2 separate regions of the Homo sapiens genome follow, and region 2 is linked to region 1. Evidence: fine-mapped expression QTL. A gene starts in region 1. The other region holds a variant in brackets. All regions are shown on one strand. Distances are from middle to middle. Region 1 holds the start of EHBP1L1 (EH domain binding protein 1 like 1). Region 2 has its middle 4.8 kb from the start of ENEMAL.

Region 1 (5,366 bases):
GGCGGCCTGGGTCTCAGAGGACTTGCAGGCACCAGTTGGGTTGCAAGGGTTATGGTAACAATAATTAGTGATAGTTACCAATTATGGCAGTAGTTACCATATATTTTCAAATGTTTTGCTGACGTTACTTCATTTCATCCGGCTAAATGGATAACCCCATTTTTTGGGTGAGGGTCATGACTAAAGTTGCATAGCTTGCAGGTGGTGCCTGATGTCCACAAAAACTTCGTTTAGGAAGGTGCGGGGAAGATGGGCTGGGGCCCACTATTCCAGGGGGCGGGGCTGGGCTGGGGTGGCCTGGACCCCAACTCCAGCCCACCCTCAGTTGTCTGCAGGTGGGGCTGCGGCAGTTGGACATGTCCTTGTTGTGCCAGCTGTGGGGCCTGTACGAGTCAATCCAGGACTACAAACACCTGTGCCAAGACCTGAGCTTCTGCCAGGACCTGTCATCCTCCCTCCATTCGGACAGCTCCTACCCACCGGATGCGGGCCTGTCTGACGACGAGGAGCCTCCCGATGCCAGCCTGCCTCCTGACCCGCCACCCCTTACTGTGCCCCAGACGCACAATGCCCGTGACCAGTGGCTGCAGGATGCCTTCCACATCAGCCTCTGAAGGGCTGGGGGGCAGGGGGCATGCACCCATGCAAAAGGCTCAGAAACTCCCCCTCCGGCAAGCCCTCAGACTTCGGAGCCTGCGCCTTCCCCCCTACCGCCTCACCTCACAGGAGGGCCAGGCATGTATTCCTCAGAGGCGAAACTGCCAAACTCTTTCTCCTGTCTTGGGTTGGCTGGCACTGGGGCGGGCATCTAGGGTACAGCCTCTGCTCATGGCACTGGGCCTCCAGTTCTTCCACATGTGTGCACCCCCAGCTTGGCCAACCCTCAGCCTTGCGGTGGGGCCCGAAGCATCTTCCCTTCCGCTTGGCGTCTCTGGGATTGGGATGAGTGCCTGGCTCCCATCTCCTCCTCACCTTTTGTTGCTATCGGCAGCTGCTGGCTCAGGGGCATCCCACCTCCGGGCTCTGGGTTCCTCTGCCCTGGAAGGGCTCCAGGACCCGTCCCAATAACCACCCACGGCCAGGAGGGCCAAGGCCCCGTGCTGGATATTTAAATTTAGGGGCCGGTCTCCAGGGCGCGTAGATAAATAAATACACTCAGCGTCGTTGTGCTCTGCCTGGCTGGCTCTGGGGCGGGAAGACCGCGGTGTTTGTGGCAGGTGCGGCCCCGCGCTCTGCCAGCAGGTGGCGCCCGAGACCCCCTCCCCCCCCGCCCCGCGCCGAGTGAAGGCCCTGCCGTCCCGCCGGGGCGGGGCTGGGGGCGCTGCCTGCTGGCCGAGCCTGGCTCAGCCGCCGGGTGACTGCGGTCGAGTCACTTCCCCTCTCTCGCCCGCGACCTCCGAGTCCCCCGCTCCCTCCTCCCAGTTCGCTTCGGGCTTTCCCTGCCTGCCGGGAAGGAAGGAGAAGGAGCCGCCCACCTTGAGGAGGGAAACTTTCCACCCCGCGCGGGGCGGGGTTGAGGCGGCGCAGGAAATGGGTGGCCGGAGTCGCCGGAGCAAGGGGCCCCGGCGGGGGCGGGGGAGGCGCCTCCGGGAACGGCCTGGGACCTCACGCCCCGCGGGTGGGAGGGAGGGGTGGCAGAGGCCGAGGGGAGTGAAGTCGCGGCACCTCGGGCCTTCCCGGAGGCCAAGCATGAGACTCCGCGGCGGTGAAGTTTGATTGGGGTTCCAGGGACCCGTATTCCCCGCTCAGTCTGTGAAGACCGCCGGCTCTCCCCACAGCACTAGCGGTCTTTACAGTTATCTGTGGAAGGTTTCTTAGGAAACCGGGGACCCACACCGCTGGGACTGAGAACCAAACCCAGTTGTCAAGCCCACCGGAAGAAGCCAGCACGTTCGGAGACAGTGGGTACTCAGCCCCCTACACGCGCACACGACACCTCACAACCTCCTGAAAAGAGGTGAAGCCGCACACCGAGGTGTGCGGACGAACAGCACATCCCCGCGCCCTGCTGCAGCCATTTGCCTCCTGGAGATGCAGCCCAGATGGCAGTCCTGGCACTCAGACATCCCGTTAAACCAAGTAGCAGTCACGCACCGGGCTCCTGTCCATTTACACACCTTGCAGAGCAGCGGGAAGGAACAAACTGACCTATTGCCCCAGGGCAGCTGACACCTGCAGAGGCTCATTACCATGCAGGGCGGGTGGGTAGGCGATAAGGGCTCTAATCTAGGGGTTCACAGCTGCTAACGCTCCAGGCAGGCTTTCCTGGGGAGGGAGAGTAAACATACACAAAAATGACACGTTTTCCCCATCCATTATAGCGCATCCCATTTAATAAGGAGGCATGGCAAAATCAGCCAGGCTTTCTGCTAAATGCCTTCTGAGGTTCATCCTCTCAGGGATTCCCTAAAAGGCGGAACTACAATTATCCCCATTTAATAGACGTTGAAACTGAGGCTCAGAGTGTTAGCGCTTTGCCCAAAGTCACACTTGGTTGGAGGTCAGTTATGATTCTCCAGCTACTTGTCGGGGTTTGGGATTATCTTCCCCCTTGACAGCAGAGTCAGGTTCTGAGGTTGGGCCACCGAGGTTACTGACGCCTTCCTGCTCTGGTTAAGACGTGGGTGGCTGCACCTTGGAGTTGAGAGCTGGTCCTCGTCCACATTCACAGTATGACTCTGAGCAAGTCCCTTCCCCTTTCTGGGTCTCAGTTTTCCCAGCCGTTGAAAGGGGGCCAGTAGTACGTACCTCCCAGGGCTGCGGGCAGGAAGGAAGGCGGCCCGGGCAGCGCTCTCTAGGGTGGCACCAAGTTGCTGGTTGCCCTCTCTCCACGCAGCCTCTGCGCGCACCGAGCGGGCACTGCGGTCGGGCGACACCCCTTCCACGCCCCCCTCCCCCGCCCCCGCTCCCGCTCCCGGGTCGCGGCGCGAGGCCCCGGAAGCCGGGTCGCCCCGCCCCCGCGCTCCTGCCCCGGCCCCCGCCCCGCGCCGGAGCCCCGCCCGCCTTCCGACGGGGGTGCGGCTCCAGGAAACGGCGCGCTCCCAGCTCCGCGCTCGCCACCCGACGCGCCCCAGGCGACCCCGCAGACTCAGCCAGACCACCCTGCGGGCCCCAGCGGCGGCAGCGGAGAGCGCGGTCCCGGGTCGGAGCCTGGGACACCTCCGCACGGACGGGGCGGGCGGCGCGGACAGGCCATGGGGACCCGGGCCGGGCCAGCGGTGGCGGGCCAGCGGGAGCCCCGGGCCTGAGAAGTGGGCGGCGGGGTGGCGGGGGCCATGACCTCGGTGTGGAAGCGCCTGCAGCGCGTGGGCAAGCGGGCGGCCAAGTTCCAGTTCGTGGCCTGTTACCACGAGCTAGTGTTGGAGTGCACCAAGAAATGGTGAGTGGGAGGGAGGCGGGGGGGCTCCCCCGAACTTGCTGGGACCTCATCCGGCCCTTTGAGCCTGAGAGGACTCTGCCCCCCCAGCCCAATGACCAAATGGGCCCCCACCCCAGCTTGGGCCCTGGTTCCGTTCCCAGGCTCGGAGATTCAGAAGTGCCCTTGCAATTTGTGGGACCCCTGGAGTTGGGGGCGTGGGCAGCCTTCCCTGCGCGGGGGTCAGGACTTTCAGGCCTGAGGTTCTGCCTGTGTCCACTCCTTCCTCAGCTGCGGTCAGGGCTGGGGGAGGGAGGCCGCATGTCTTGTGCCAGAAAGGTGGTTCAGGGTGGCATTGGAAAAGGGATCAAGTTTTGAGGTCTGCAGGTGGCTAGGGCTGGGGCAGGAGCCTCCCTGACCTTACTTAGTCCAGCTAAGAACAGAGATGTTGCCCCCTCCTCCCCTGCCATCTTGTTGAGCCAGAAGAACCCCTCCAACTCCCGCCTCTTCAGCCAGAGTGCTGGGAGGCTGGAAACATCTCCACAATGTCCTTAAAAGGGGAAACTGAGTGCTGGGAGGATTGAGGAGGGAGGCGGGGAGCAGCTTAAAGGGGCCTGAGGACCTAGGAGGTTGTGGGTCCGGGAGGAGAGGGTTGCGGAGGGCAAGGTGGCAGGGTGAGGGGTGATTCACCAGAGGGTGCAGGCCCCAGCCTGGACTACCAACAGGTTCAGGGGCATCTCGTTCACATGCCGCCACCCATAGCTGCCCAGGCCCCTGCGTCACACCCTAAATATACGTGCTTGCTGGTGTCAGCTTCCCTTGGCTGGATTAGGGCACAGCTGTGGGGGCCTCACCCGCCAGGCGGGGCTAAATTTAGGCTCCCCAGGGGAAGGGCTGGGGCAGGAAGGGACCATGGGGTCCAGGGGGAGGGGAGTAAGCAGGAGGCTGGGGTCCCTTGGGCAGCTGCCATATCCTTGGCCTTGCCCACACTGGGCCTGCTAGAGGGCCATTCACATCTTTCAGCAGAGCCTGGGAGAGCTTGGGGGCTGGCACTTGAACTCTGGCCTCTGGCTCCTGCTCCAGCATCCTGCGGGAGGCCAGGGAAACACTGGGCACAGCAGGCTGAGGGTGCCGGCAGTGTCAACGCAGCTGAGTCACAGGCGGCTGTGGGTAGGGCCTCCTGGGCTGCTTAGCCTGGAGCCCAGGCCGGGAAGCTGCCCCTGCCCAGGTTGCAGCTTCCCAGGAGGGCGTGCCCAGCCTGAGTCAGGCTGCCCAGCCAAGCCCTGCCCTCCCTAGGCACCCCCTGTCCGCTTCCCCTTTCTGGGAAGGCCCCTTAGTTACCCTTGCTCTGCCATCGCTGGCAATTTGGGCTTGGGGAAGGGAACTTGGCTCTGGGTTGGAGGGCTCTAGGCTCAACCGTGTAAACTTGTTTGGCTCCAAACCTCTGTGGGCCTCAGCATCCTCAGGGTTAACAGAGAGGCACTTATCCTGGCTTGGCCTCAGACGAACAGTGAGCTGGGCAAACCCCAGCATCACGAGAGGGTGCAGGCATGGGGCTGGGTACAGGCAAGGCCAGTTCGCGTGCTGCCCTGGGCCGGATCGTCCCCTCAAGCATCACCCCTCCTGGGCAGCAGTTGAACATCTAACCCCAAGGGGCCCTCTGCCCCCAGGCCCAGCCATGAGTCCACTCAGTGCCTGGGAATGGGCCCTGCGCAGCCATCTCTGTCCTCTGGCTTTGCCTCTGCCTCTCCTCCATGTCTGACCTGGCATATGCTGTTCAGCTTAGATGTCACCCCCTGGAAGTCTTTTCTGATTGCCCTCCAGGCTCCACTGTCATCATCTTGCCGAAAGCTGATCCTCCTTGGGACCCCTGCGCCCAGCAAAGGGCTGGACATGGTGGGCGAGGGATGGCGGTGTTGGTTAATGACAGGCTGACCCTCTGCTGCTTCTCCGGCCTCACCCCCAACTCTCTGCCCCTCTCTCTGATGTCACCCTCCAGCCGCAGACCCTT
Region 2 (5,366 bases), 100 kb before region 1:
AGGCCGAGGTGGGCAAATCACCTGAGGTCAGAAGTTCATGACCAGCCTGGCCATGGTGAAACCCTGTCTCTACTAAAAACACAAAAAATTAGCCAGGTGTGGTGGTGCAGTGGTGCGCGCCTGTAATCCCAGCTACTCGGGAGGCTGAGGCAGGAGAATCGCTTGAACCCGGGAGGCGGAGGTTGCAGCGAGCCGAGATTGCACCATTGCGCTCCAGCCTGAGCAACAAGAGTGAAACTCCGTCTCAAAAATATGTGTATATATATATATATATATATTTCTTAGAGATGGGGTCTCCCTATGTTGCCTAGGCTGGTCTCTTAACTCCTGGACTCAAACGATCGATCCTCCCACCTCTGCTTCCCAAAGTGCTGAGATTAAAGGTGTGAGCCACTGTGCCTGGCAAATAAGCTGACATTTTGCTTGACACCTCCTGAGCCAAGGACACAGACACCCGAGAGATGTCCACAGGCTGCAGAGGTCCAGCTCCTGTGACCAGGCAGCAGCCTCAGTGGAAGAGCACATGTTCCTGGGCCCTACCACAGGCTGATGTGGAGAGTCCCTCTGATTGAAAATGCCCAACTCAGGCCACTCCTGCCCGGGGGTGACTGTCTCGCAATAAGATACAGGGCCAGAAGGATCCAGGAACACAGGAAGAGTTCGGCAGGGCTCAACAGGAGAACAGAAAAGAACTAAAAGCAGAGACACCATGCAAACATGAGGCACACACGCAACAGGAGACAGAGCAAACTGCAGGAAAAAAGAAGGGCCCTGTTAGCCACACACCGGCCTGTGGGCTACAAGCCCTCCAGTTACAGAGCATGGGAAATAAGGCCAGGTCATGCCTGTCCTCACCTTTGAGTTAGGGCCGAGCTGGGCAGAGAATCTGATTGCCCTTCCCTCCCTCTTCAGTTCCTGCAGATCACTTGGTTCTTTTGTGTTTTTTGCTTTTTGTTTTTTTTTTTTTTAAGACGGAGTCTCACTCTGTTGCCCAGGCTGGACTGCACTGGCTCGATCTCAGCTCACTGCAATCTCTGCCTCCTGAGTTCAAGCGATTCTCCTGCCTCAGCCTCCCGAGAAGTTGGGATTACAAGTGTGTGCCACCATACTTGGCTAATTTTTGTATTTTTAGTAGAGACAGGGTTTCACCATGTTGGCCAGGCTGGTCTCAAATTCCTGACCCCAAGTGATCCACCCACCTCAGCCTCCCAAAGTGCTGGATTACAGGCATGAGCCACCGTACCTGGCTGGCTTTGGGTTCTTGAAGGGAAAAGAAAAAGCCCCATGGCAGACCGGACCTGACTGACGGGCAGGAAATCTTAATTCCAGACCTGCTTTCACCTCCTCACTGCCGGACCTGGAGCCAGGGCTGGCTGTCTCAGGGCCTCTGCCTACCATTGCCAGGAACTCTCTGTTGCCAGTCTGTATTTGGAGAGGCTGAAGGGATGAAGGTCCTACCTCACTCTGGAGCCCTCCCCACAGGGCCCCAGCTTGCACCTCGTGCACCAGCTCCTTAGGGGGCAGTGTGCACCCCTGGAAGGACTCCCAAGGTCTGGGACTTGCGACTCAGGACAGACCATTCCCTGCAGATCATTCATCTGCCAATTTAAGAAATGGGAGAGAGACGGAGGCCCGTCTGCCTCCCCTGCCAGCTCCTGCTGATTGCTGGTGGCTGCCTCCTGAGTTCTGGGGTCCCTCTCTTGACAGTGGTAAGAGTGCCAGGAACGGAGCGCGTTTGCTGCACACCATTTGCCATTGGTGCATCGAGCACACTCCCAGCTCCAGGATTATGGGAAGACCTTTTTGGGGTACAGACTTCCCCTCCCTGCAACAAAGAGGAGCTCTTCCATGGCCCCCACCCTGAGGGGCACAGGAGGTCCACGGCCTGGAAACTTCCTATTTCCTGGGGCTGGCCCAGGGCTTCTAGTCTGGCCTTCCATAAGGCATGGGCCAGGATGCTGGCCCTGGGGGCCTCTCAGCTCAGCCCCACGTGCCCCTCTGTGGACTCTCAGTCTCACGTTTGTCAGGGTTCTGCCATTTAGAAATGATCAGCCCACCTCTAGACCAAGTGCCTGCCTGGAATGTCCTGTCCAACTTATCCACCAGCTCATCCTTCCGGGCCTAATTAAGGCCCCACTCCATCTCTGAAGCCACCCCATGCTCATGACTCTCCCTGACGCAGGTTCCCGACACACCGGGTGACTCAGCTGCAGTGTTTTTCACAGTCCGTGATGCGTCACAGCTATTTATAGGTGTGCTTAACTCCCTGTGAGGAAGCACTTCAACCCCCAAACGCAAGTTCCAGAAATATGCTCATAAAGATAAAGATAGAGAAAAGCTCTGGAAAAATACACAGTGCTGTTGCTTCAGGCAGAGTCCGTGTGTGTGTGTGTGTGTGTGTGTGTGTGTGTGTGTGTGTGCTTTCACTTTTTGCCTCATACATCTCATTGTTTATAAAATTTATCAATATTACAAAGTTGTAAACAAGGTTATTTAAAAACAACAAATTGGCTGGGCACGGTGGCTCACGCCTGTAATCCCAGCACTTTGGGAGGCCGAGGCAGGCGGATCACCTGAGGTCAGGAGTTTGAGACCAACCTGGCCAACATAGTGAAACTCCATCTCTACTAAAAATACAAAAAATTAGCCGGGCATGGTAGCAGGCGCCTGTAATCCCAGCT[A/G]CTCGGGAGGCTGAAGCAGGAGAATCGCCTGAATCTGGGAGGCGGAGGTTGGAGTGAGTTGAGATCATGCCATTGCACTCCAGCTTAGGCAACAAGAGCGAAACTCTGTCTCAAAAAAAAAAAAAATTATAAATTTCTACACAAAGTCTTGCACATTCCTTTAATTTATTCATAGGTATTTTATAGTTTGTGTTGCCATGTTAGCAGTTACAAAGTGGCTGGGCACAGTGGCTCACACCTGTAATCCCAGCACTTGGGGAGGCCGAGGCGGGTGGATCACAAGGTCAGCAGTTCGAGACCATCCTGGCCAACATGGTGAAATCCCATCTCTTCTAAAATACAAAAAATTAGCCGGGTGTGGTGGTGCACACCTGTAGTCCCAGCTACTTAGGAGGCTGAGGCAGGGGAATTGCTTGAACCCAGGAGGCGGAGGTTGCAGTGAGCCGAGATTGCATCACTGCACTCCAGCATGGTGACAAAGCAAGACTGTTTCAAAAAACAAAAACCAAAAAACCAAAAAACAAAAAGAGTGAGGTCCCCCTGAGTCACATAGCAAGACCCCATCTCTACACAAAATATTTAAAAATTAGCCAGGCATGGTGGTTCGTGCCTGTGGTCTCAGTTACTTGGGAGGCTGAGGCAGAAGGATTGCTTGAGCTCAGGAGGTTGAGGCTTCAGTGAGCCAGGATGGTGTCACTGCATTCCAGCCTGGGAGAGACAGCGAGACCCTGTTTTTGTTGTTGTTTTTTTCTTTTTTAAAGAAAATAAACACCAAAACAATAAAAAGAGTGAGGTAGGTAGGACTCATGTCCCAAAATAGTTCTCCCTTTTTAGTTTTTTAATTTTTAATTTTTAAAGAAAGTTTCATTCTGTTGCCCAGGCTGGGGGGGTGGGGTAGTGGCATAATCGTAGCTCACTGTAACCTGAAACTCCTGTGTTCAAGGGATCCTCCTGCCTCATGCTCCTGAGTAGCTAGGACTACAGGCCCACGTCACCATGCCCAGCTAATTTTTATTTTTATTTTTTGAGATGGAGTCTCACTCTGTCGCCCAGGCTGGAGTGCAATGGCGTGATCTCCACTCATTGCAACCTCCGTCTCCCAGGTTCAAGTGATTCTCCTGCCTCAGCTTCCCGAGTAGCTGGGATTACAGGCGCCTGCCACCACGCCTGGCTAATTTTTGTATTTTTAGTAGAGATGGGGTTTCACCATGTTGGCCAGGCTGGTCTTGAACTTCTGACCTCAGGCAATCTGCCTGCCTCGGCCTCCCAAAGTGCTGGGATTACAGGTGTGAGCCACCGCGCCCGGCCAATTTTTTTTAAATGTCTTGGCAAGATGGAGTCTTCCTATGCTGCCTAGGCTGTTCTTGAACCATTAAAATGATGTATTTCAATTATGTATATACTATTTATACATATATTAGGATATATCTACATGTGTGTGATATGAATATATATACACATTCACAAGCACATTATAAATGTTTGTATGTGTATATATACATACATAGTCATGTACTGAATAATGACATGTCCATCAATGATGGACCACATATGTGACAGTGGTCCCATATACTACCATTTTTTTTGTTTTGTTTTTTGTTTTTGTGAGACAGGGTCTGGTTCTGTCACCTGGGGTGGAGTGGAATGGGGCATCTCTGCTCAGTGCAACCTCTGCCTCCCGAGCTCAAGCAATCCTCCCACCTCAGCCTCCCCATTAGCTGGGACCACAGGTGCATGCCACCACACCTGGCTAATTATTGTATTTTTAGTAGAGACAGGGTTTTGCCATGTTGGCCAGGCTAGTCTCAAACTCCTGACCTCAAGTGATCTGCCCACCTCGGCCTCCCAAAGTGCTGGGATTACAGGTGTGAGCCACCGTGACTGGCCAGTAGTCAACTTTACAACAGGCCTAGGATGGGAGGTGATTGTCCAACCAACTTTAACTTTACTGTTTGAATTTTAAAAGAAAATACCCATGTACTTGGGTATTATTTGTTTGTTTGTTTTTGAGACGGAGTCTGCCTCTGTCACTCAGGCGAGAGTGCAGTGGTGTGATCTCGGCTCACTGCAAGATCTCTGCCTCCTGGGTTCAAGCGATTCTCCTTCCTCAGCCTCCCAAGTAGCTGGAATTACAGGCGCCCACCACCACACCTGGCTAATTTTTGTATTTTTAGTGGAGACAGGGTTTCACTGTGTTGGCCGGGCTGGTCTTGAACTCCTGACCTCAGGTGATCCACCCCCCCTCAGCCTCCCAAAGTGCTAGGATTGCAGGTGTGAGCAACCACACCCAGCTGTACTTGGGTATTATTAAAAAAATAATAAGTCACAGGATGGAGCCAGGAAGCCTGAGGCAGGTGAACCTATGAGGCAAATGTCACGTGCAACAAAGTGTAATTGGCTCTGGCAGCCAAAACCAATTGGACATCTTGGTGAGACAGTCTCCAAATGTGTCACAGGATATAATTTCCAAAGTTATAAACATGACTGTCTTTAATGTATGTACCAAAGGTTACTTCAGGTGTTAAGAAACTATAATGGTGGAAACACTAGTTCAAAGGGAACTGGAGAGACTGAAATACTCAGAGGCACTGAAAAAGCAATGCTGGAATAAGATTGCTGAGTTACATCCAAAAGTACCTGCTGCGCTGCAGGGTAATAAGCCCATTATCTTGGGTCATCTTTTCT

What was found.
Region 2: its variant is fine-mapped to the expression of EHBP1L1 in whole blood (INTERVAL, PIP above 0.99).

The regions. Positions count from the first base shown.
Region 1 is chr11:65,573,028-65,578,393 of GRCh38, forward strand. EHBP1L1 (EH domain binding protein 1 like 1) reads left to right here and starts at 3,026. Exons shown (of 19, transcript NM_001099409.3): 1 at 3,026-3,379. The coding sequence starts at 3,276. FAM89B (family with sequence similarity 89 member B) reads left to right here. Exons shown (of 2, transcript NM_001098785.2): 2 at 336-1,163. The coding sequence ends at 614. RefSeq lists silencers at 1,111-1,630, 2,651-3,070, 3,081-3,140, 3,201-3,300, 4,351-4,645 and an enhancer at 2,001-2,140.
Region 2 is chr11:65,470,047-65,475,412 of GRCh38, forward strand. No RefSeq gene overlaps it. Among named protein-coding and RNA genes, the nearest start is that of ENEMAL, 4.8 kb to the right of the region's middle. RefSeq lists enhancers at 1,248-1,793, 2,114-2,193, a silencer at 1,494-1,573 and a cis regulatory region at 1,903-2,462. The variant A/G (reference allele first, on the strand shown) is at 2,682.